6 separate regions of the Homo sapiens genome follow, and regions 1, 2, 3, 4 and 6 are each linked to region 5. Evidence: fine-mapped expression QTL. A gene starts in region 5. Each other region holds a variant in brackets. All regions are shown on one strand. Distances are from middle to middle.

What was found.
Region 1: its variant is fine-mapped to the expression of NCAPD3 in whole blood (TOPMed, PIP above 0.99).
Region 2: its variant is fine-mapped to the expression of NCAPD3 in whole blood (INTERVAL, PIP 0.98).
Region 3: its variant is fine-mapped to the expression of NCAPD3 in whole blood (TOPMed, PIP 0.99).
Region 4: its variant is fine-mapped to the expression of NCAPD3 in whole blood (INTERVAL, PIP above 0.99).
Region 6: its variant is fine-mapped to the expression of NCAPD3 in whole blood (TOPMed, PIP above 0.99).

The regions. Positions count from the first base shown.
Region 1 is chr11:134,154,582-134,158,668 of GRCh38, forward strand. NCAPD3 (non-SMC condensin II complex subunit D3) reads right to left here. Exons shown (of 35, transcript NM_015261.3): 30 at 3,748-3,914; 31 at 3,347-3,486; 32 at 2,437-2,514. Among named protein-coding and RNA genes, the nearest start is that of SNORD153, 5.3 kb to the left of the region's middle. RefSeq lists an enhancer at 3,169-3,670. The variant C/A (reference allele first, on the strand shown) is at 2,548.
Region 2 is chr11:134,260,541-134,264,627 of GRCh38, forward strand. It overlaps ACAD8 (acyl-CoA dehydrogenase family member 8), which reads left to right. Exons shown (of 11, transcript NM_014384.3): 7 at 504-639; 8 at 735-832; 9 at 1,198-1,350; 10 at 1,980-2,082. Among named protein-coding and RNA genes, the nearest start is that of ACAD8, 9.0 kb to the left of the region's middle. RefSeq lists silencers at 41-90, 1,593-1,642. The variant G/C (reference allele first, on the strand shown) is at 1,877.
Region 3 is chr11:134,040,281-134,044,367 of GRCh38, forward strand. LINC02731 (long intergenic non-protein coding RNA 2731) reads left to right here. Exons shown (of 3, transcript NR_027276.1): 3 at 1-1,061. Among named protein-coding and RNA genes, the nearest start is that of LINC02731, 10 kb to the left of the region's middle. The variant G/A (reference allele first, on the strand shown) is at 2,235.
Region 4 is chr11:134,272,661-134,276,747 of GRCh38, forward strand. GLB1L3 (galactosidase beta 1 like 3) reads left to right here and starts at 3,719. Exons shown (of 20, transcript NM_001080407.3): 1 at 3,719-4,087. The coding sequence starts at 4,081. RefSeq lists enhancers at 182-737, 2,878-2,987, 3,048-3,177, 3,328-3,377 and a silencer at 3,828-3,897. The variant A/G (reference allele first, on the strand shown) is at 2,043.
Region 5 is chr11:134,222,249-134,226,335 of GRCh38, forward strand. NCAPD3 (non-SMC condensin II complex subunit D3) reads right to left here and starts at 1,719. Exons shown (of 35, transcript NM_015261.3): 1 at 1,615-1,719. The coding sequence starts at 1,678. It overlaps VPS26B (VPS26 retromer complex component B), which reads left to right and starts at 2,423. Exons shown (of 6, transcript NM_052875.5): 1 at 2,423-3,097. The coding sequence starts at 2,875. RefSeq lists enhancers at 2,160-2,209, 3,000-3,059, 3,160-3,309 and a silencer at 2,330-2,799.
Region 6 is chr11:134,183,872-134,187,958 of GRCh38, forward strand. NCAPD3 (non-SMC condensin II complex subunit D3) reads right to left here. Exons shown (of 35, transcript NM_015261.3): 17 at 1,464-1,655; 18 at 1,032-1,129; 19 at 766-881. Among named protein-coding and RNA genes, the nearest start is that of SNORD153, 35 kb to the left of the region's middle. The variant C/T (reference allele first, on the strand shown) is at 2,490.

The DNA.
Region 1 (4,087 bases), 68 kb before region 5:
GTGGTGCAGCCTCGCCCCTCCTGGGTGGTGCAGCCTCGCCCCTCCTGGGTGGTGCTGTACCCAGTGCATAAGCTGCCACCAGCACACTCCCGGGAACAGCACGGGCTGGGCAGCTGCTTGCTGGTACCACTGAACCTGCTGCCCTTCTGCAAGCACATGCGAGGAGGCAGCTTCAGAGCGCTCCCCGTTCTCCACTTGGTGTCTTGAGTATGGACTGTGTCTTCCCATTTACAGTTCAAAGCTCATCAGCGCACTGCAGCTGTGTACCCGATGGCTACTTGAGTGTCACTAATAGACGATGGTAGAGAATTCCTCATCACTGCTAGATCTGCTTATTCTGTTTCGGTGAAGTCTCTCCTTGTGCTGTCACATGAAATTCCCTTCCTGACACACACACTGCTCTTCCTGTTTGGAAGCCCATATGCACTCCAGGAAATTAGTCTCCCATCTTTACAGAAGCCCGGGTGCGGGGGCTCTGACGTCCCCCATGCACTGTGCGTAGAATCGAAGGCAGCAGCGTCTGTGCCACCCGAATGGTAACAGTAACAGGGACTTGCTAAAACCCCCACAGATTTTCAGTTAAAATCCTCGCTCTGAAAATTGACTAATTTTCATTTCCATTTAGCAAAGCCACTGTGAATTGGTGCTGAACTGGGTGGCATCTTTCCTGCCAGCTTTGAAGAGCTGAGACACTTCCTGACAGTCTCCCCCACCTAAACTAAAAGTTGCCAAAAAGAATCTGGACGTATAAACCACAGAGAAAACAGAACTGAGTGCTTTTAAACTATCTAACAGTTCTCCCAGGAAGGGGAGACCTCCAGGCATTTCTTCCTGGTTCAGTATAAAGAGAGACGGACAGAGACTGCATCAGCAGGAATATTATGTCCAAGAGCCTGGAGCAAGAACAAGTACTCTACCAACTCAATGACACCGGGCGCCTGATTTCCAGCACAAAGCGTGGCTCCACACAGGCAGATGAGGGCGGCATGAACCCTCCACGCCAGGCTGCCCTGTGGAGAAACACGAGCTGCTAGGAAACAACCCAACACTGACATCAGGGACTCAGGATGAGCACAACGAAAATGAGATGCGTTCTCCCCGTTTCTTCAGCATATGGCACCTCACTGCCAAAATAGAAGCTCTTGGCACTCCTGAGCCAGGAACATCGAACACACAGCAAGCTCTAACACACAGAACATCGCACCTGTCCACGACGCAGGATCCCAAATTACCCACTGCCTTTAATGACAAATGCCGTCATGATTCGGTTGTCGTCTGAGGGTGGGGGTGGGATAAACTCCCTTCAAAGGGGGACCTGGATGAAAATTACCTCTAACCTGTTAACTATTCTAAGAGATCACAGCATCAGTGTGACAGAACCAAACAAGCAAGTAGCTAGAATACAGCAGGTGCTCCACACACATGAGCTGACTGAAGCAGTGACTAAACGAACGGCAGGACACCTTGCTGCTCTGTTACCAGGAAGAGCACCTTAGCACGCTCTCATCTTCCCCTGCAGTCAGGACTAGGAGACAGGCTGGAGAAGGGGCACAAGAGTTGGGACCAGAAGGCCTGGGCTCAGCGCCCAGCTCTGCCCTCCCAGAAGTCTCCGGGAGGAGATCTCTGACACCTCCCAGGTTCCAGGCACTGTGGTCTGTGGAAACAGTGAGGAGTGGAATGGCCAGGGACGAGCGGGGCTGGATGCAGCTTGCTGAGGGCACTGTGCACAGCCGGGCGCAGAGCGAGGGGCACACAGGGACACGGCGGCAGGGCCTAGCCACTACTCCACAGATTTAGGACAGGAAGCATTTCTTCTTCCTGTAAGAGTTTTCTCAAAATAATGGTTTTTATGAGGTTTGACACAATATGAAGCTATCACACAAGATAATAGGAAAAGAATACTCAACTCTCCTAACTCACCTCTGTTTTGAAATCAAAGGAAAAGCACAAACAGTAGGAAAAAACATGGAGGGGAATGAGACACAGGCTCCGAGCAGGGGTCCCCGGGTCTCTGGTCTTGGCAGTTGCAGAGCGTGCATGGTACCTGCTGGTGCTGACGTCTGCCCGCCCTGGGAGCAGGCCCACCCAGCAGCGCCCAGTGCACCCGGACAGCCCAGAGACACGGAGGGCCGCCTCCAGAAGGCACCACTGGGTCAGTCACCCAACCTACCTGTGCCTCAACGGCATTGTCTGCTCCGCGGGCCACTGTGGTGTTTGACTGACTGAATGTAACGACACTGGAACAACATACTCGGTCAGTGCTCATGGATCAAGCGACCGTGGTCACTGTGAAATACTCCACCTCAGCAATGCACTCATGGTTCTGACCATCAGAACTATCCTGCACCGGAAGGAGTTTTACTGCGACTCTAGCAAACACATCACGAATGCAGGAGAGACTGAGGAGAAGCCCACGTGTTCCGATCAGTTACTCACTCTCGGGGGTGCTGATGGCCCGCTTGGTCACGTGCTCAATCTCGCCATTCGACTCTTGCTCCAAACTGTATGAAGACACTAGAACAGAAAAGGTGCTGCTATCCAGAAATA[C/A]CCCCAAACAATAACGAAGAGCAAAACAACCACATGAGAAAACATATCTGCAAGACGTAAAGTCAAAATCACTAGTGTTTACAATTTTCTTATAAAGAGGCAATTCAGGAAGAAATACAAATAAATGATAAACATGAGAAAAAATGTCCATTCTCATTAGGATTCAAAAAAATAAAAGAGTCTAACTTGGCATAAGTGATAGAGGACAGTTTGACACTATCCAAAGTTTTTAAATATCCATGGCCTTTGACTGCTGGGAATTAATCCCAAGGATTACATACATACAAGGCTATATGTACAAGGATGTTTACTGTGATAGTATTTGTATGGAAAAATTGAAAATCAACATTTCAAAGAACAGGATAGTAATAAATCAGTTATTTCCACAGCCACAATGCTATAAAGCCACTGAAAGCAAAGGTTGGAAAGAAAAGTTCATGGAAGCTGTCTACTACATCTACTACATCTGACTTAAGAATGCAGGGAAACAGGTCATAAAACAATGCACGCACAGATCACAATTCCATAAACAAAACAAAACACGTGTGTGTAAGAGGAACAGAATAGCTGGAGGAAGGAATGCCTCACTGCTATGGGTGAGTTTCATATTTCACTCTATTTTCCAAATCTCCTAGAATAAATATGCATTGTTTTACTACCCATGATCCTAAAAGCCCAATTAACGTTATTTGTTTTAAAGATAAGAAAACACACCGCTTTGAAAGGAATAAGAAGTAGCTTGTTCTGTGTTTTCATCTGTAAATGCTCTACTGTGTCTGGCACCAAACATAAGGCTTACCCTGACTGCACGTTTTTTCTGGGCTTCCAGAATTTAAAGTGAAAGGCAGCACTCCTAAGCTCCGACTCCGATGCCTGCTCTTTGACTCCACGGCTTTCTTGACAGAATTCAGGATTGCAATGGTGCTCAGGGACATGGGCCTGTGGAGAACAGCCACAGCCGCTGACTTTCTCACTGCAGACCACTGCAGAGGTGACAGTGCTGCACTGTGTCCCCGCGTGCCTCCTCACCGGCGCATCCCTCACCACCCTCATTCAAACCTCCCAGGGCACAGTGTGGAGCGGGGTGGCAGGCCAGACAATGACAATGACTTTCCTGCCCACGCTTGGGAATGGCAGGGACGCCTCTGAGAACATCGCCACAGAGAACCAGCCCTGATGTGGCCTCCAGGGGCTCTTTACCTGGCTTTGGGCAGCAACCTCTGCAATGGCCCTGTTTCAGGTGTAGGAGATGATACTGCTACATGGCCAGCACTTGCCCTGGGTGTGCAGGGCTGGCTCACGGCAGGTGACATGGCAGGGTTTTCTTGGCCAGCAGGAACTGGCACTGTTTCTAAACACAGGGCAACCTGGTAGAGAAGATAAAGAGTATGTACATTCTAATACTTTTTAAGTTTTCAAAAACGGATATATGATAGTTGTACATGGTTGGGGGTCCATATGAGATTTTGATACATGTGGACAACGTAATGATCAAATCAGGGTAATTGGCATCTCCATCACCTCAAACGTGAGTATCTTT
Region 2 (4,087 bases), 38 kb after region 5:
CAGCAACCATTTCCTAGGCTTCTACTGTGTGTGAAGCCCATGCTAACTCCTGGGCAGGAAGACCTTCAGTAAAAGGCTTAGAAATGGAGTTTATCCTATCAACAAAAGAGAGCAAGGAAATGATGTAAAGGCAGTCTATTTTCAGAGCCAGAGAGGAACTGGGAGATTGTAGATAGTTTGTGGTTTTCAATTAGAGGCACTGAAATTGGGGGCAGTTGGTGTCACAATCCTAAAAGAAGTTGTGAGAAGTGTTTGTAGGTTAGTCAGGTAGAGTAGACATTAGTAGATTCTCTTAATAAGTTAGAAAATGTTTAGCTGAAACAGGTATCTTTCTGAGTGCTGACAGGCCTTTAAACCTGAACTTTTTCTTTTTCCTCATTTTAAGTTCTTGTGGGTCTAAGTCTTGGGTGCTGAAACCCATACCTCACAGGCTCCCGTCCCCAGGGAAGGCCGCCCTACCTGCTGGATTGTTGGGCAACCACGCAGTCCCTGATTTTTGCCAGGTGGGGTGGAACTCCCAGCCAACACGAGCTGTGATCTTCGAAGACTGTGCTGTCCCTGTGGCCAACAGAATTGGGAGCGAGGGGCAGGGCTTCCTCATTGCCGTGAGAGGACTGAACGGAGGGAGGATCAATATTGGTGAGATACGCAGGGGTGTGGCAGGGAGGTAGCGGTCCGGGACAGGCACTGCTGTTTTCCAGCTTGGTTGGAACGTCGGCGCTCTTCCCCTCTAGCTTCCTGCTCCCTGGGGGCTGCCCACGCCTCTGTCATCCTCACCCGAGACCACCTCAATGTCCGGAAGCAGTTTGGAGAGCCTCTGGCCAGTAACCAGGTAACCTCTGCCTTGCCTCCACATGGCTTTGCACTATTTGCAGCCCGGGACCTGCTCTAGGGCCCACATTTCCAGGAGAGAAGCCAGGAAATTCCTCTGTCAGTCCCACCACTGTCCTAGCCAGAGCTTGTGCTTTATTTCTGTCCATCTTTTCTTGGGATATCTTTAACGATATTAAAGTGTCGGGTGAGTGAAGTGGACTTAGCACTTAAAAGCAATAAATTTCCTCTATAGAAAAAGCAAGAGACTTTGAAGCTTTGGATCACTTAGAAAAGGCGCCTCCGAGATGTCTTACCGAGGCTCCTGCACCAGGTGCTGGTCTAAGCCCCTCAGTCTTGTCTGGTTCTCTGCTCCCTGTGCTGCAGTACTTGCAATTCACACTGGCTGATATGGCAACAAGGCTGGTGGCCGCGCGGCTGATGGTCCGCAATGCAGCAGTGGCTCTGCAGGAGGAGAGGAAGGATGCAGTGGCCTTGTGCTCCATGGCCAAGCTCTTTGCTACAGATGAATGCTTTGCCGTAAGTGATTCCTCTGGCTCTCCTGGGATGGACAGGGAACAGCTGCTAGGCCCAGGGGTCTTGAGAGACATGAGTCAGATTTGGAACCCAGCCCTCCTGGAATCCCACAAGGATCACCTTAAGCTTAAGGATATAAATGAACTCATGAGCGGCCTATGTGGGAGCTCTCATCGCTGGCTTTTAGGCCTGCTGCATGCCATTATACACTTCATTATGTCACTGTTGTTTGGTTGTGTTCTAGGCGAGAAACCACCTTTGGAAGGTTCACAGCAGCCCCAATTTAGCACTCTGCCATGTTTACATTGTCAGGCTGCATTGCCACTAGGGGGAACCATAGCTTTTTATCATCCCAGCCAGGGTGGCTGTGGGCAGCTTCTGCCTGGCAGGTAATAAGGGAGAGGGGCAGAGGGCTTTGAGTCGCCTGTCTGGGGGGAACTGACAAGTTTAGTAGGTGAACTTCCCTTGTCTCTAACCATACAGAATGTGGAGGCCCTCTTTGAGCTTGGCTGTTTGTGGTTCTTTCATG[G/C]GTTTATGGCGGGCTGCCAGATCGTGGGCTGGGGTAGGAAGGGAAGCTGCTTGCTCCACAGTCTTCCCAGAGTCCAAGACGTCTAGTCCCTGTCTCCCTGCAGATCTGCAACCAGGCCTTGCAGATGCACGGGGGCTACGGCTACCTGAAGGATTACGCTGTTCAGCAGTACGTGCGGGACTCCAGGGTCCACCAGATTCTAGAAGGTAAAAATTGCCAGAGGTTATTCTCTTCCCTTCAGAACGGGGGCGGGATCGCTGCTTTCCCCACTCTCTGTCCCCATGCCTCCTGGGCCTCAGGGTGCAGTCAAGCCCTGTCTGTCTCGAGGCTTCCTCCTCCCTCCCGTTCCGCAGAGCTGTTCTGGCAGGGGCCTGGAGTCCAGAGCCGCAGCTTCGTCCCTTTCGGGGGGCCTCAGATCGCTCTGCTGCTGCCCTTTTCCTCTGGAGATCTGCGAGAAGGGTGAACTGAGATAATGGATGAGAAAGCATGTTGAAAACCACAGCCGGGGCTTTTCTCTAAGGTTATCGAGTACGTGGTTCTCAGGGATCCAAGAACAGTGATGGACAAGGCAAATGTGAGCCAGTATGGTCATCAGTAGCTCTATATTGATTATCAGCCAGATGGCCTAAAAGATACCTGTCTCAATATTACTAGTGTATTTTTCAATAAAATAAACCATCACTATATGGGTATCTTCTTGGTAGTCACAGACATTCTATCGAGGAAACATGGAAGCCGTTGGGGTCGGGCTCGGAGCCTGGCTGTCTCCACTCTCTACAGCCAGTGCGGAAGTCTTGAAATGACACGACTCTTGGAAAAGCAGGAGGGGCAGAGGCTTCTTTGAGTGACTTCGGTGAAGCAACGTGAGGCTGCCTTGCTGGAAACATTATATAATGGGGCTTCCCTGCCCCTTTCACAGCACCCTTCTCAAACCTCAGCCTGTGCTGGAATCGCCTGGAGGGCATGGGAGCGCAGATTGCGGGCCTCAACCCCAGAGCTTCTGCTCCAGAGGGTCTAGTGTGGGCCTGGGAATTTGTATCTGCAACAAGTCTTCAAGTGAGGCTGCCACAGCTTGTCTGAGAACCACACTTTGAGACCCACCGCTCTGGTGTTAATGTCAGAGTCACAGGCTACCACAGGTTAGACCGCTGCTTTCTTCTGCAAACCTCATTCCAGAAAGATGTTTATGGGCTCAGTCGCCAGTGTTCAAACTGAATTCCCGAGAGTCGTTTTCCTTCCATTACTCTTGGAATTGCTTTCTCACTGAGCTTTATGTGCGTAGGAAACTTCGCCTTCATTCTAACTCTCTCTCCACCCTGCAATAATAAGCAGGAAAACATTTATTGTAGGCCACACCATCACCCACTTACAGAAGAATTGGGGCACTCATCACTGTATCACTTTGTTTCATCATGGACTTTACTGTTGGATAAATCTACAGTTTATGCTTTATTTGAGACGATGTGACTACTGATTCCTCGAGGGGGTTTATATTTCTTTTTGCATTAAAGGCCACTGCTAAAAATGAAGCAAATAATTGATACCCTCCTTTCAGGGAAAATGTTTTCATTCTTTTGTAAGTCAGTTTTCTGATTACCAAAGAAATGTGTATTTATTGTTGAAACCTTATAAAATTAGGAAAAGTAGGCTGGGTGCGGTAGCTTATGTCTATAATCGCCGCACTTTGGGAGGCTGAGGCGGGTGGATCGCGTGAGGCCAGGAGTTCGAGACCAGCTTGGCCAACCCGGTGAAGCCCCGACTGTCTAAAATTATAAAAAGTTAGCTGGGCGTGGTGGTGCATGCCTGGAATCCCAGCTACTCGAGAGGCTGAGGCAGGAAGATCGCTTGAACCCAGGAGGTGGAGGTTGCAGTGAGCTGAGATTGCACCATCGCACTCCAGCCTGGGTGACAGTGAGACTCCATCTAAAAACAATACAAAAAATTAGCCGGGCCTGGTGGGGCCTGGTGGCACATGCTTGTGGTCCCAGCTACTCAGGAGGCTGAGGCAAGAGAATTGCTTGAACCTGGGGGGCGGAGGTTGCAGTGAGCCAAGATCACACCACTGCACTCCAGCCTGGGCGACAGCAAGACTGTCTCAAAAGAAAAGTAAAAGAAAAAAAATCACTCATGTTTCTACATCCAGAATGTTATTTTGGTACATCTCCTTTTAGGCATTTTACTCTGCCTTTGTTGGTACATTTTTAATTTTAA
Region 3 (4,087 bases), 180 kb before region 5:
AGCCTGAATTATTGAAACGCTTAGAGTAAAGCAGATTTAGATTTCACAAAGACAGAGGTGAAGGTGGGTGAAGACGGAGGGAAGGATTTAAAGGGAAAGAGAAAGAGGAAAGATAAGAATGAGGGAGAAAGAGGAAGAGAGAAAGAAAAAGAGAAATAGAGTTATCGAAGATGACTGCAAGTCTGGCCTCTCTCAACCCAAGGAGCCAAGGAGGGGAAGGCCGGCCTGAGCAGCAACGTAGACAAGAGCTCAGGAGGGCAGGGACAGAGCCCTGGCTTCAGCAAGAGCGTGGGGAACAGAGGGCAAGGGGGTCCATGCAGCCCAGGATGGCAGGGTGCTCATACACACAGCCTTGGTCCTGTCCCCTCTCCCATTGCCGCTTTTGAGCTCACCTTGTTTAAGGCCAAAGCACACACCATCCTCCCACAGAGCCACTAATGCAATTAACAAAACACATTCATAAATCTTGCATGGCGTCCGGAGCTGTCTCCTCTCCCTAAGCACAAAGGCCAGCTCCAGAGATGCTGTGCAGAGAGCTGTCTGACCTCTCCAGCGTCAGGGCCCCCTGAAAAGTGCAGCATAACCCTTAGTAGGACAGAAAGACCATTGTCTTCTGCCAACCATTACAAAGTGGAGTGGGGCTGGGGTTAGGAAACACAGACAAATCAGAAGAGGCTGAGAAGGCGGAGATGAAAGTGCATAGGTGTTTGCAGGGAGCTGGGGAATAGTTCGTGCCTTCCAAGCTCAACAAGAGAGCATTCAGCAGAGACCAGAGAATCACCACTTTTGGAGGGTGATTTTACCTTGTGAGAACAGAGCACAGGGTGTGTGGGACCCAGGGCATCTTCGGCAATGCGGGCGTGACTTGGCGGGATGTCGGTGTTTGTGTTTGCATGTGTGTGTGCGTGCGTGCATGCTCAGTCTGGAAAACTGGTGACTCACTAAAACACCGAGCTTTCTGATCTGAAGAGCTTATATTCGGCTATTTTTAGCTCGTCTTGTCTCTTGGCCCTTTTTTTCCCCTTGTCTGTTTTCAAATGTAGAGGAGTCTGGAGACCATGAATGCCGTGTGTGTGTGTCTGCTAATTTAGAGCTTGGGCCCAGAGGTGGGTACCCCTGAAGGTGCAGAGATGAAGGCACGTGGGGTGTATGTGTGTACAGCAGGGACACACTGACACAGACAGGGTGCACATGCTCTTATTCTGGCATGTACACACGCGTACCATGCATACGTGCAAGCAGGAGTGAGGCCAGAAACGTCCCTGGAAACTCCGGCCTACACTCTCTTCACGTGGGTTGGTGTACAGCTACCCACTATGCATACTTCACAAGTATAACTGCCTCCCCACCCCAGCCCCTGCCTCACACGACCCAGGTGGGCACACTCTCATGAGGCACATGGCCACAGGCACAGTCTGGGCCTATCTTGGGGAATGGCCCCAGCCCCTGTGCCTTGTTTCTTCTCTGTTCAGCCACTCTTCCAAAAATTATGACTTCTTCTCAAGAAGGCCTTTCTCTGCTGGTTGGCAATAGGAAACACGAAGTGCCAGCTTCTGCACTTGGCTTCTCCTGGGACTCATTCAGCTGATCCCACCTGCCCACCACCATTGGCCGAGACCGCCTCCCCAGTCCAGTGGTCATCCAGCTACAGGGGGTCTGGCAACTGCTTAGAGAGGCCAGGCAGGGGTCAATGCTGTGTGAGCTCCGTTCCTCTAGCCGGGAGAGAGGGAGAAAGGAGAGCGAGCTCGGATTGCCATCTGCCTAGGTGCAGTGTGGGGCAGGCGGGGAGCGGAGCTCGGACTGCCGTCTGCCTAGGTGCAACGTGGGGCAGGCAGGGAGCGGACAGCACTCTTCAAGGCTCTAGAACGCTGGTGGGTTCCTGGACCTTGACTCTGTGTGACAGGACTGTGTATGCAACCCAGTGTCAAGAGCAGAAATGCGCAAATGCTGCCTATGACCAGTGCCTCAGTGATGCGGCACGCCTGGGAAAGGGCACCCACAGCCTCTCTTTCCACACAGCACACATGCTGTGCACTCACGCACAGCAGCACGTGCCTGCATGCACACACTCTTAGAAGCCTGCGTGAGAGAGAACACGAGCCTTCGTTACTCCAGACACCAAAGCAAGCTCTGAGCTGCATCATCCCTCAAGTCTGCAGTTTAGGCATGGCTCAGAGGCCCCAGCCAAGGCGGCCAAAACCCAGCCATGTGTTGCTCCTTAAGCCATGTCTTCT[G/A]CTGAGAGTCTGCGTCAGCCCAGAGGAGGGGCCCTCGGTCTCCCTTGCCTGCCGGGAGGCCCTGTGGTTCCTGGTGTCCAGTGGGCTCAGCGTCACGTCCTGGAAGGAGCCACTACCCGCCTACTGCCCCACTGCATTCCACTCCACACACATTTGGGGATCCAGCGCTCTGTGCAAGGCACTCCATGTCATCATGATGAAGGAGGACCAGCCGGAGTCCCCACCCCCAGACCCCTGCCCCAAGATAGGCTGGCACAGAATAAGATGCCTGCACAATTAGCCATTGCAGGACTCGTCACCCAGGGTGTGTGTGGTCATGAGCCACGCAGAAGGGATAATTCTCTCTTCCTCCTGGGGCCTGGGGGCCTTCACAGAGAACAGGACAGGGGCTTTTGCCTGGGCCCTGAATAATGAACAGATCTCCCCAGGCCAAAGAGGAACTTCTCAGGCAGGGAACTGGCCTGCATGAAGGTGTGGGATTGGGAAGCGTGGACAGGGGCTCGTGGGGAGAAATCAGATCTTGCCAGCAGACAGACTGGAGCTCAAGCCTGCCTGACTTGCCTCCGGTTCTGTGGCTCTTGCCTGAAGGAGAAGTGATTTTGAATTATCTACCTCTCTTCTTACCCCACATGGAAGGAAAAAGTCTTTTTATCTTGAAAGATCTGGACTCCTTCTGCCTTCTGAGCATCTGTAAGATGGAGATACTAATAGGGCCTTCCCTATAGAGATATTTTGAAGATTAAATGAGAGACCTCATGGAAAGCTGTTAGCACAGAGCTGAGTAAGTAAGCATTGTCATTAGTTATTATTATCCTATTTTATAGGCTACCACAGTGATTCTCAACCGATTTTACCCCTCAGAGGTCATTTGGCAATGGCTGGAGACATGTTTGGTTGTCACAACTTGCAGGAGTGGGAGGGAGGCTGCTCCCCGCCCCTGGTGGGTAGGGCCAGGGTGCTGCTAAGCACCCACCATGCACAGGGCAGCCCCCACAGCAGAGCAGAGCCCCCCCAGAATGCAGAGAGCACAGAGGCTGAGAAGGCCTGGGCTGGGGGGTTTCACCTTCTCCTGAAGACAGTGCGGTGACCACGATTTTCAAGCAGGGAATGACATCATAAAATCTAAGTTTCAGAAAGAAAAATCTGGCAACATTGTGACATGTCTAGAAAGCTCAGCCAGGGGCACTGCAGACCTGCAGATGAGACCGGGGGGAAGGAGGGCTGGGTCTGCAGCAAGACCAGGAGGCCGCACATTGGCAAGAAGAGAGCAGGAGAACCTGCTGAGGGCTAGAGGAAGGAAGGGACAGGCCTGGGGCCACTGGAGGACCCTAAAGTTTCCAGCGCATGGACCTGAGCAGATGGTAGTGCCGCCTTTCAACAGCATAGGAAGAAAAGACTCCATTTGGGAACTGTGTCCTCCAGGGCCCAGGTTGGGGGAAGCTCCTCCACCAACCTGTACGTGAGCCATGCCCCTCCAGTCCATCTGCTCCCACTCAAGGGGGGACCACCCTTCAAGAGACCCTCACCCAGCCCATCAGTGCCCAAGAGAGGCAGGCATCCAACTGCACCATCTCCCTCTCCTTCCCCATGCAGCTCCCTCTGAATGATGATCAGTGAGGCCCTGCAAGACAGCCTCCCGAGGCCGAGCCACCGAGCTACAGGACGAAGATGATCTTTCTGGGCTCCTGATGTCCAGACCCTGTCTTGTCTTTCAGCATGTTCAGAATACCTGTGGCTGCTGTGGGCAGAGAGGAGGTACCGGGGAAGTCCTGGCAGACTTATCTATCGGCAGAGAGACTGAGTCTCCATGCCACCCCAATTCCCCCTGCCCTTTTGACTGAGCTCTGAACACA
Region 4 (4,087 bases), 50 kb after region 5:
GATAAAGGAGGGATACTAATGGTACCCGCTTTCTGGTGCTGTGAGAGTTAAGAGACAATAGACAGAAATGTCAAACATGCAGAACTGTGCCTGGCACACGAGTGCTTGGTAAATGTCAGCTATTCATAACAGAGGAAAAAACCTGATGAAAATAAATCACTTTTGGATAAGGATTTTAATATTCTTACAGACACTCCCCATCCAGCTCTTAGCTCAATGGATCAGGTTATCTGCAAGGACAGCAGCCTCTTGCTGGGTGCCCCATGGAGACAGCGATCTTCCCTCCTCTCTTACCTTCTCAAGGGTGGCCCTTTTCCATCACCAAGGCTGCACTCATGCAGAGAGGAAGCCTTCCCCCCCGACCTGATCAGGCTGATTAACTTCAACTCCCAGGGGAGAAGACTCTTGAGAACACACTTTAACCTTGGGTTCTCACCTGGAGCTCCGCATGATTTTCCATTTCCTTAACTAATGAATGCATCTAGCAGACTCAGTCCATAAAAAAGGCACATTTGAATGATAACAGCCAGAGCCCGGTGGCCGAGCTGGGCTGCCGCCTGCTGAGCAGCTCCTTTAGAAAGGCCTGCACTTGAGCGTTAGTTACCCTGTGGAGGGACAGGAGGCCGGCTGCTTCACTTCCCTCTGCTGGGAGTGGCCCTGCGTGATGGGGTGCATATCCACTTCATTTATTTTTTAATCTGTGGGAGACAGGTTATCAATTTACTTAAAGTTTGAATGTCTGTAAGGATGAAATTTAAAGCTAGGGCTCTGAAGATCTCTAGCAGGGATGTATCTGTCATCTACCTATCCCTCCATCTCAGCCTGTGAACTGCGTGTCATCATGGGTTAAATTAATTACTAAGAGACCACGGAGTCCATTTTATAGCTCAAATGAGCATTTTTCATTTCCTGTAGTAAACATGACTTAAGTAAACAAAGAGTTTCTCTAACAAGGATGGCTTACAAGTAGAAGTGGCTAAATTTTCACTTTTATAAATTTTGCTGCTTTTTATTAACTATCAATAAACCTAGAAAGATGATCTTACAAGTAAACAACAGATTTTGCATACTTTAACCTTAAAGATATCTCTGCCTCAACTCTTTGTTCACAGCTCTCTGACACTGGAATATTAATAGTTGATAATCTTTCCCTTTAATTTTTCACTGATAATATTAGTTCCTAACCCAGGTTTTTGGATCTCACAAGGGTTCTTATTATACAGTTGTCACATACATTTCTTTAAGAAGTTCAACCTAAGAAGAAATCAAGAATTGTCTTTTCTGGTTCATACATTAACTCCTATAGGGTTGTCCACTACTAAAGCAACAGAAAGTGCTGCCTTCTTTTTCTGGAAGCTGCTGTTCTTACAAGAGAGCAATTTAGGAGCAGGAATTGTGCTTTATTAACATCAAAGCACTGGCACAGGAAGTTTGCACACTCAGCTCTGGGAGCTTTTTGATGCTTTCTGCCTGCTTTGGGAAATTAGCTCTTTGTTTCATTATCAGTTATCTGGATGGAAACTGAAGGGAAAAATATTGATTTTTTTTTTTTTTTTTAATAAATTGTACCAGGATGCTGGGTCTGCGGCCCTAGTGGCTGGTCTTTCCTGTGCTTGGGATGTTGGCCTTGTAGAGTTACTTCTGTAATCTCAAGACAGAAACTGACAGCTTTGTTTGATCAAAATTGTTACTTCACCTTGCACATTTTCAAGAGTTCTACAGGTTTAATGAGCACAGAAATCTGGGGGAACTTTCACTCTCCAGGGCTCCTTCATAGAGGTTCTCAAATACTCCATCAGCAGAGGGGAGCCCCAGATGGCAAAAGGACACAGGATATGTCATCTTTCAAATGAACCAATAATCCATTATTTGATTCTTCTACCTTTGTCAAAATTCCTCCAGCAACGCCTGCAGAAAATCACAATTCTTGATACATAGCTTGTTCCAATAAAGCACCACAGCATTTCTAGTGACTGCAGGCCCAGCTGTCAAACTCTTTCAACTTGATAGAGAATATGTACACAAAACCTATAGCTGTCATC[A/G]TACTTAATAGTGAAAAACAGAATGTTTTCCAGCTGACACTGGGGACAAGGTAACAGTGTCAGTTCCTGCCGCTCTTATTCAACACAGAAATTTTAGTCATCATACTAAGACACACAAAAAAAGGAATAAAAAGCCACGCAGACTGGAAAGGTAGAAATAAAACTCTCCATATTTGCAGATGACATGATTATCTACATGGAAAATGCCAAGTAATACACAAATAACCTCTTAAAATTAATAGGTGAGTTTGCCAAGGTCACAGGATATGAGATCAACATGAGAAACACAATCACATTTCTGTATGCTAACAACAAACATGTAAAAACTGAAATAAAAATAATAACAGTTTAAATCTCTTGAGAGCAAAGGAAATATTTAAGTATAAACCTAACAAAACGTGATAGGATCTGATGTTGAAAAAATCACACAATTCTGATGAAAGAAGTGAAAAAAAAAAAACTATTTAAATAGACAGACATACCATGTTCGTGGGTTGGAAGATTCAACATAATAAGGATACAATTCTCAATTTGATCCATAGGTTGATTGCAATTCCTCTCGAAATACCAACATGGCTTTTTGTAGAAACAGACAAGTTTATTCTAAATTTTATGTGGGAAGGCACAAGCCCTAGAATACTTTAAACTTGACAAAGAAGAATAAAGTGTGTGGCTGTAAAACCAAACTGTAAAAAATTAACAGTTCATTGCTTGCAGTCGAAAAAATGAGGAAAAGATGGACGATCTAGGAAACTTTCAGGGAGCTAAGGTGTCGGAGAGCAAAGTATCCTTGTAAGGAATGAGACAAGATAAACTCCCTCCCCCACACACAGTATTTTCAGAGAACTACATTCTTGGTTTCAACCTGATGTCATAGGCTGTGTTCTTTGCAACGGAAGAAGCAAAGACTTCAAAGGGAGAAATCGGAAGATTTCTTTTTTCATCGTAGGGACTTCACATCAGCGTTTCCAAAACCGAGTCCATCGCCTTTTCCCTCTGCGCAGCCTCTATCCCTTCCTGTGTTTCGCATCTCAATAAACGTCCCCGCCAAGTGACTTCAGCCTGAAACATGCGGCCTCCCGGACTCCTCTCTGTGTCACCGACCTCTTGCGCTCAGTTCTCCGGAGCTGCCGGTTTAACCTCGCAAGTCTTCCCGGAACCCGTGCCCTCCTCCTGGGCAGCGTTACCACCACGAGCGCCTACCTGAGAGGACGCCTGTTCTCATCCAGCCTCCACCCTGCAGCCGAGCAATCTCCGTAAAACGAACACCTGGCTTAGTTTCTGCTGGAAACCGTTGAATAGTCCCCACTGTCTTCTGGAAGGGTCTGGGCAGCTCGGCGTGGCGTCCACGGCCCCACCAGGCCTCTGCCTCCTGCAGGTCCCGCTACTTCGTCACCAAAGCGCCCGCCGCGCTCGCATCTGCTGTGAGGCTGTGCTCGGGCCGCTCCCGCCGAGGGAACGGCCCTCCCAAGGCTCTGCGCCCCAATTCTCGCTCGTTTGCCAAGAGGTAGCCGTGTCGGGGAGCTAGAGTTCTCCGGGGACTCTCTCCTGCCCCTCGTGGCCCTCTGTGGAACCCTCGTTTTAGGATCTGCACGCCGTTTCCAGTCGCGCGCGCGGCACGGAGACCGCCCGCTGTGCCCCGCGCTGCGCTCTCTCCGCCCCTCTCCCGCGCAGGCCTCCCTGTGCCAGCCGGCTGTCGACCCAGGTTAGGAAGCCCGAGGTCGGGGCGTTACCCCAAGGGCCCTCCCGCTTCCCCTCCGAGGGCAGAGAGGCGTCCGCGCCCGGACGCACTGCGGGAACACCTGGAGCGCCGGCGGAGCTCGGCTGTCCCCGCGGGAGGGAGCCCGACGCGCATCCTTGGGACCCGGACCCGGCGCCCGCGCCTCGGGACGGATTTCTGCCTCGGCTGCAGGCGCAGCGCGCAGACCTGAGCCTGCCCCGCGGAACCGGGGCTCGAGTCCCGGCCCGAGCGCGGCGTCGGGGCCAGCGGAGAGGGGCGGAAGCCGCAAGGGACCCTCGGCGCCTCGGCCTGGCCGCGATGAAGT
Region 5 (4,087 bases):
CTTAGGATGGAAGAAGAGGAAGAAATACATCACCTATTCACTCAACAAACACTTTGAGAAAATACTAGGGAAGCCACTTATACTTCTAGGGATATAAAGATGAATACTAGAGGGTTCTTGTCCACAAAGATCTCAACATTTCACACTTAGGATACCAAAAAAAGCAGCCTATGATAGAAGAGAGGCCACTGAATTTTGAGTCAGAACGAGGCAAATATCCTGACTTGATCACTTACACATAATTAGTCTCTCCTTCATCATTGGAAATACAGGATTTTTGTGAAACATAATGTGTATAAAGGCCCTAACAATGTGCTAGCCACATAAAAAACAGTCAATAGATGGTATTTATTATTTTTGCTATGGATGAGTGTTAAAATAATAGATATGTAAAATGTAAAATGCTACAGAGCTTAATAGGGAATAGTACTGGGGGAGGAGGGAGAGGAATAAGATGATTCTTCAATTGGACCTGAATGTAAGAGTTTTGCCAGGCAAATAAATGCAGAAAAGTGCCTCCCAGCAAGCACAGTGTAACAAAGCACACAAAGGGAAAGAAATTAAAGTGTTTCTAAATGAACAAAATTGTTACAGTGTTTGCTTGTGGGTATTAGTATCTGTTCAGCAGTTATTATGTGGCAAGTACAAATTTATCTTTACAAAAACCCCTGTGAGGTAGATATTGTACTCCCCATTTGACAGATCAGAAAACAGGGGTTTAGCAAGGATAAACAACCTGCACGGTAATACATGGATGCTATGGGGTAGAGCCAAGGGAACAATCCAAGTGTGTCCGACTCCAAAGGTTATGCTCTTGGAAAATCAAACTGGAGAGAATGGCAGCTCTTATAAAGCATGCCAAGGATGTGGTCATTTATTTAGGAAACAAAGGGGAAACATTAAAGGTGTACAGGCTTGACACATTCAAAGCTGTGTTTTCAAAAGTCGTTCTGCAAAAGTGTGGGGGATGGGCTGGCACAGTTAACATCAGAAAGCAGCTAAAATACTCCTGCAATTGCTCGAGGCTATGATGAAGGCAGCAGCATCAGGAATGGAGCGGGGCTGCCCTGAGACACCTCAGAGGCAGGACAGTGGTAGTGGGCATGAAAGGGGAAGCAGAAATGCCATGACTCCTGGGTTGGTGGCTTGGATGGTGCCATTAGCAGGCTTTGGGAATCCCATTTTCACTCATGTGACGTTTGATGATGTCTGCATGTGAGACATCCAGTGGAACCTATGAACATGAAGTTCAAGAAATAAGTCTGGCGGAAGAAAGAGATTTGCAATTTAAAACCATCTTAATAGGTAAGAATAGATAGGTGCACGAAGACACGCACAGGAAGAAGGGGAAGGCCGAGAAAACAGATGCACAGGCGCTAGAAGAGACTGGCCAACATTCGCTTATTCTAAGGGTGGCCTGGCCGGCTTGAGCCCCCACGGGAAACCTGGCTAGCCGCAATCCTGGCGTGGCACGGCCCTGGGGACCCCAGGCACCGCCGACAGCCGGGCGCCCCCACCCCGCCCCCACCGGCACCCCGGCCCGGGCTTAGGCATCGTCGGGGACGCATAGGACCCTCGCCCTGGCCCCCGGGCCTCCCGGCTGCATCTGCTCACCGAGTCTAAGATCCAGCGGACACCAGGGCTGCAGGCCGCTACCAAGGCCCCGCAACGCCACCATGATCCCAGGGCACCGGCTCGCCGCCGCCGTGCTCAACTTTCAAAGCTCGCTCCCGCGCGCGCGCCGAGTCGTTCCTGTGGACCAATCACAACGTACAGAATTTCCCACTGGCCAACCACCGCGCCGAGCCGTTTCCATTCGCTCAACCAATCACCGGCGTCGTCCGCCGCACGCTCAGAGAACTGGGCGGGCCGAAAAGTGGAAGCCAAACAAGGCTCCTGCGGGTGTTCCGCTAATTCGTTCGAGAAGGAGCCAGGGCCTGAGTTAAACCCTAACAGCGTTTTTCCCGCCTCGTTTTTCTTCAATGGGGGAAAATCTAAAGGGTATCTGAGATAGGGTACTTCCGGTAGTAACTGTCACCTTTGCCCTCGTCAGGCGACATTTCGCGTGCGTGTCAAAGGGCTGCCTTTCCCGTCAGCACTCGAACAGCGTAATATCCGAATGTGAAAGGCAGCCCAACGTGTATCGAGCTAAAGTAATAAGGGAAAAGTAGCCGAAAGCACTCCGAGAAGACAAGACAACTGCAGTTCTGTAGGGACTGCGCGGCACGCGTGGGCCCAGAGCCTGTCCCAGCGAGGTAGCAGCTGCCATGCCGACCGCTGGAGCGCCGGCCGCGCTCTCCCTGCGCATGCGCAGCGAGCTCTCCTCCGGGCTGCCGGGAGTCCCAGGAGCGTTAGGGGGTGCGCCTGCGCGCCGCTGCTCCAGCGCATCCGGGCTGGAGCTCGCCCGCCCCCTCCCCCGCCCGGAGCCGCCGAAGCGCCTCGGTGCGTTGCACCGCCGGAGGCTGGGCAGCTCGCAGCGCTGCTCGGCGCTGGACCCCACCCGGCAGGCGCAGGCCACCCACACCCGGCTCTGTGCGGCTGCCCCCCGCAGCATTGCACGGCCGACCCTCGCCCGCCCACTGCCACCGGCCGCGGGACTGGCTGGGACTGGCTCGGCCGAGGGCACTGCTCCTCGGTGCATTGCTGCTCGGGCGCCGCAGCCCGCAGCCGCCAGCCTCCCCCGGCCGTGCCCCTCCCCCGTGGAGCCGGCTGTCCGTCGGCGCCCACTGCCCGGCGGCAGCGGCGGAGCCAGGCAGCCCCGCGGCGGCCGAGCGCGCTCGCGCATCGGGCCCTCTGGCCTTCTTTACCTAGGGCAGCCCGCGCCCCGGTGCGAGGGAGCGGTCCTTACCGAGACCCGCCCGGCCCGGCGGTGCGATGAGCTTCTTCGGCTTCGGGCAGAGCGTGGAGGTGGAAATCCTTCTGAACGATGCAGAGAGTAGGAAGCGGGCCGAGCACAAGACGGAGGACGGGAAGAAGGAGAAATATTTCCTCTTCTACGACGGGGAGACGGTCTCCGGGAAGGTGAGCCTTGCCCTCAAGAACCCCAACAAGCGGCTGGAGCACCAGGGCATCAAGATCGAGTTCATCGGGCAGATCGGTGAGTCGACCCCCGGGACCCCCTCCCCCAGCGCCGACAGCCGGCCGGGGAGCAGGGTGATTCAGGGCCCAGCTCCTCCGGCGAGGCCTGTCACAGTCGCTTGTCAACTGCAGTCTGAGGCCTGGGGTTCAGCTACAAGTCCCGCCCGTGGGCGACTCCCCCTGCGTTACTGTCCTCCCTGCCAAAAGTGACAGCGCGCTGCCAGGGAGATGGGGACGGCGAGGGCGGGAGGAAGCGCCCTGCTGTGCCTCGTGGGATGGGCACCTTGCCTATGGGTTCTCCCCATTGTCTCCGGCATGCACTCGGCTTTGCTTCTTGTCCCCAGGATTTCTGGGTGAGGTGCTCTGGCCATAGCCTGCAGGTGGGTTTGTTAGGGGGAGACCGCTCTGCCAATACTGGCTTTCCCATCGCCCGGCCATCTGCAACTGCCAGACGCAAAGTGAGGCTCGTCCACCGAGCCCCACTTCCCAGAGCCCGCACCAACCCGTTTTTCTCTTTAGATGTGGTGTGAGAGAGCTAACCAGTTCTCTCTTACCTCACCTCAGCCCTGAACTACCTATGCTTGTACATGTTTCCAGAAAGAAGACCCATAATCTTCAGTCTAAATCTGACTACCTAGGCTGCGTTTCTTAGACTTCTTTATTAGAATGCAAGTTTTCAGTTACCACATTTTCTGTTTAAAGACAAAGAAATGGTGTTTCTAAAAACCACAATTAAGTGATCAGAGTTTCTCAATGCTTTAAACATGATTATTAATCATTGGAACTAGACAGCGCCAGGCACAGTGGCTGATGCCTACAATCCCAGCACTTTGAGAGGCTGAAGTGGGAGGATTGCTTGAGGCCAGGAGTTGGAGACCAGCCTGGGCAATATAGCAAGACCTGCCTCTACCCCCAAAAATTTTTTTGTAATTAGCTGGTCGTGGTGGTGCTTGCCGGTAGTCCTAGCTCCTCGGGGGGCTAAGATGGGAGGATTGTTTGAACCCAGGAG
Region 6 (4,087 bases), 38 kb before region 5:
CCATCATTTTCTTTTATTCTGGAAAACTTAAATATATCCCAGCAATTATTTAATTTTTGTTTTCTATAGCCATTATTAATAACCCCAGCTCTACATTTTTTCATTATGATTGGTACTAAGAGTATATCTCATGATAAAAACAGAATAAATATATGGTAATAAAATTATTTCTTCAGTTACTGGTATGCATACCTTTTAAGGAGTCAAAGTACCTCTCTGCCTCCCATAAATCACTGATGTGGATTTCTGTTTATATAAAAACACTAGCTGTGGGCTATAGGCAACTGTGGGGACACGATACCAACAAGAGATATTTGAGTAGTGTAACCTCATAGTAACAGGACAGGCATGTCCAAGATTATGACTTATCAGAAGGTCAGAAACCTGTTCTGGAGGGAACTTCCTGCTTAAGTGGAAAATTGTCTATAAGTGTTCTTGGAATGAGAGTGGAAGTCAAGGAGAAAGAGAACCTTGCAGAATTCTCACCAGGAAATGACAATCAACAGGAATGCTTACCTAAAGACACTCGCACCTGCGATCAAGGTGGTGACCATCTAAGGGTGCCGTGTCTCTTAGGCAGCTAAATCTTCTTGGGGAATGTCAATTGCTAGTTATGTAAACCTTGCCTTGTTGCGGCAATAGCTGCGGGGGACATCCTTACACGTCCTCTTATTTATAGAGAATGCTCCTCACACTTCAAAACACATACAGTAACATCCTAAGCTCAAAGAAGTCAGAAACATGTCAGGGAAAGTCTGGCCATACCTGCTCCTCTGCTGGTGTCTCTGCAGATGCTCTACAAAGCCTCTGCAAGGCGTCAACAGCTGAACTGATCACCTCTAGAGACCACTGAAATCCATTCAGCTTACACTTGACAGCATCTATGAAGGAAGTCAAAACCCCTGAAGTTCAACTGCTTAAATATATTCAGGTATATATACACACACACACACACACACACACACACACACACACACACCTGAAATGAACAGCAATGCATTTTCACATAAGATTCTCCAGCAGACACTCACCAGTCACTTTGTCCCGGGTGCTCTTAGGAAGATGCTTTGCAATATGCCCAATCACACAGAGAATATGTCCTAAGGTGTTTGAATTGGGATTCTGCTGACTAGAGAAAGGGCAGGAGGAATATGAAGGGAGAAGCAAGTTAAACACTGCTGCCAACAAAGGCCTTTCTTCTGGATTAATAACACTGGAGGAAGCAGGGTAGGTAGCATGGCTTAGGAGTCAAGCTGTGGGAACATCAAGGCATTTAATGTACTTGGACAAAGGGGAAATGGGTGAAACATGATTCTTATTTTTTTCATGCTTGTTTTTATACCAGGTTTTAAACAGAAGGTCTCTGTATATGAATAGCTATGAAAAAGCTCACTTCCTTAAGTCTTGGGCTTTGTTTCTAAGACTCTTCAGTGTCATTACTGGTTAAATTAGAAGATACAAACCTGCTGATTTTCTCCCAAGATTGTATTATTCTGCTGTAGTCCAGCCTGGGTGAGGAGCCAGCAATCTTGGAGAGCAGCATCCAGGCAGGTGCCGAATGTTCCGTGCCAGTGTGAGATATTACATTGTTTATAAAAGTGGGTGAGAATTTTTCTTTCTTGGACCAGATATGAAAAGCCTTATTTAAATATCGGCTGGAAAAAAAAAAGATAGAAAAGCAGAATTGCAACTGTAAATATACAAAATGATTCAGATGGGAGCCTCACTGAAAGGGTATCAACTTCTGCTGCTCCAGGACTCAAGTGGCACATGAAACTTATATGTAGACGTTCCTAATTAGTGGCGTGTCTGATACCAAACTAGGTATCTTTTAAATTTTTATTATTCTACTATCAGTTATATTCATTTTTCCCCTCATAAAATATTCCTTAAAGTAAAGAATAAAATTTCACAATTCATTTCAGACTCTTCTTATCCTCCTCCCCTCCAAAATTTCTACATAACTGCATGGGGTCAGTTACAGATACATCCAGAGCTTACACAGTTATAGTGACAAAAATTAGTAACATTGTCCTTTTTTTTTTTTTTTTCTTGAGATGGAGTCTCGCTCTGTCGCCCAGGCTGGAGTGCAATGGCGCGATCTCGGCTCACTGCAAGCTCCACCTCCCGGGTTCACACCATTCTCCTGCCTCAGCCTCCCGAGTAGCTGGGACTACATGGCAGGATTGTAAATGACAACCTAACAATTAAATATGATGATATTAAATGAGCTAAAATATGCAATAACTTAATACCACTCAGAAATAGATATTTCAAACCTTTTCAAAATAAAAAACAATGCTTCTGATGTACTAAAGTGTTTGTGTTATATTACTAGTTTTTGAGACAGGGTCTCACTCTGTCACCCAGGCTGGATCACAGTAGTATGATCACAGCTCTCTGTGTAGCCTCCACCTCCTGGGTTCAATCAATCCTCTTCCCTCAGCCTCCAGAGTAGCTGAGACTACAGGCATGGTCACCATACCTGG[C/T]TAATTTCTCTCTCTCTCTCTTTGTCTGTCTTTCTTGAGACAGGGTCTCACTATGTTGTCTAGACTGGTCTTGAACTTCTGGGCTCAAGCCATCCTCCTGTCTTGGCCTTCCAAAGTACTGAGATTATAGTTGTGAGCCACTGTGCCTGGCTGTCACTGTTGTTTTAGAACTATCTCTTATTTTACTTCTTCCCAAGTCACTGAATGGGATCATATGATTCATGAGACAATGCCATATTATATATTTAAATGAAGAGAAAAATACACTTCTTCCCTTGATTAATTTTTCTTAGACTTCTGGGAAAACACATACACATACATACCCACACGCGAACATCAGGAATTCCTCATTAAACTGTTTTTAGAAGGGAAATTCTCAAAACATACAGAATAAGGTAACTGTAACAAAATAAACACATCTATATACCATAATAAGCATATGCATATAAATGAAGTTTTGCTAATATATCAGCTATTGATTAAAAATCCATCCACAGATGTCAAGTCTTACTACAGTTAGCTTACAACATGATTTATGTCTGATTTATGTCCAAATACCACAAGATATAAGCAATGAACAAGTATTTTTAAATTTATTTAAAAATAACGATATAAAATATTAAGTAATGTTTATTATATGTAGCCAACAGAATTGGGAAAAAATCCTCTGAACTTGCAGAAATCTCAAACTTGGCTCCTCTTTGACAACTCCCAGCCCTCCACTCCCAGCCAGCCTCCCAGCCCAGCTGAGGGCCACAGCCATTCCCCACCTGGGCAGACTGTGACCCAACACACTAACTTCTATCTTAGTACCAAAACCAACGGCCATGCTTCAGGCCCGTCTCCATGGCCTCCACCAGAGGTTACTGACTACTCTTGCGCTGAGACTCTGGTCCACCAGTTGGATCTCTTTTCATCTCCTGTAACTAATTCCTGTCTTCTAATAACTAATTGCTGATTTGAAAAGCTCTATTCTTAGTCCTCTTATCTCCAACCTAACTCTGGGTGACCTCATGCATTACCAAGAGCTCCCAACTGAGGTGTGACAAAGCATTCAAGTTGAAGCTGGGCTTCCATCTCCAGCACTCCCTCTGTCCTCAACCTGCCCGACTTCTGCTCTCCACACCTCAGTCAACAGCAATTGATTCAGGCATTTTCCTGAGATTTCATAGAGCCTTCTGGCCTCTGAGCTTTTGCATGACTATTTCCTTTCTGGTAACCCTTACTACTCTGGCTGCTGAATTCCTACACATTCCCAAATATTCTACCCACGCCACTACTTCTGGGAAGCCACCCTAAGCCAGAAGAAGAAAGAAAGAGGACAAAGAGGAAGAAATAATCACCAAAATGCCAGGTGCCCTTCCTCTGTTCTCCTGTAGCTCCCTTTCCACTAAAATTGTGACTTGCTTTTGTCTATTTCACTAGACCAAGAGCAACTGGAGGAGAGGAAGTGCACTGAACTATTCTGTGAATCTCCAGCACTTAGAACCAGTCCTGGAAAATGAAGTCCTCAAAATATGTTTGTTCAGTTGAATAAAATATTTCCTCTTCCAACTCCTCCAAACCTCAGGCTCAGCTTTCATCACCTCTACCATTCC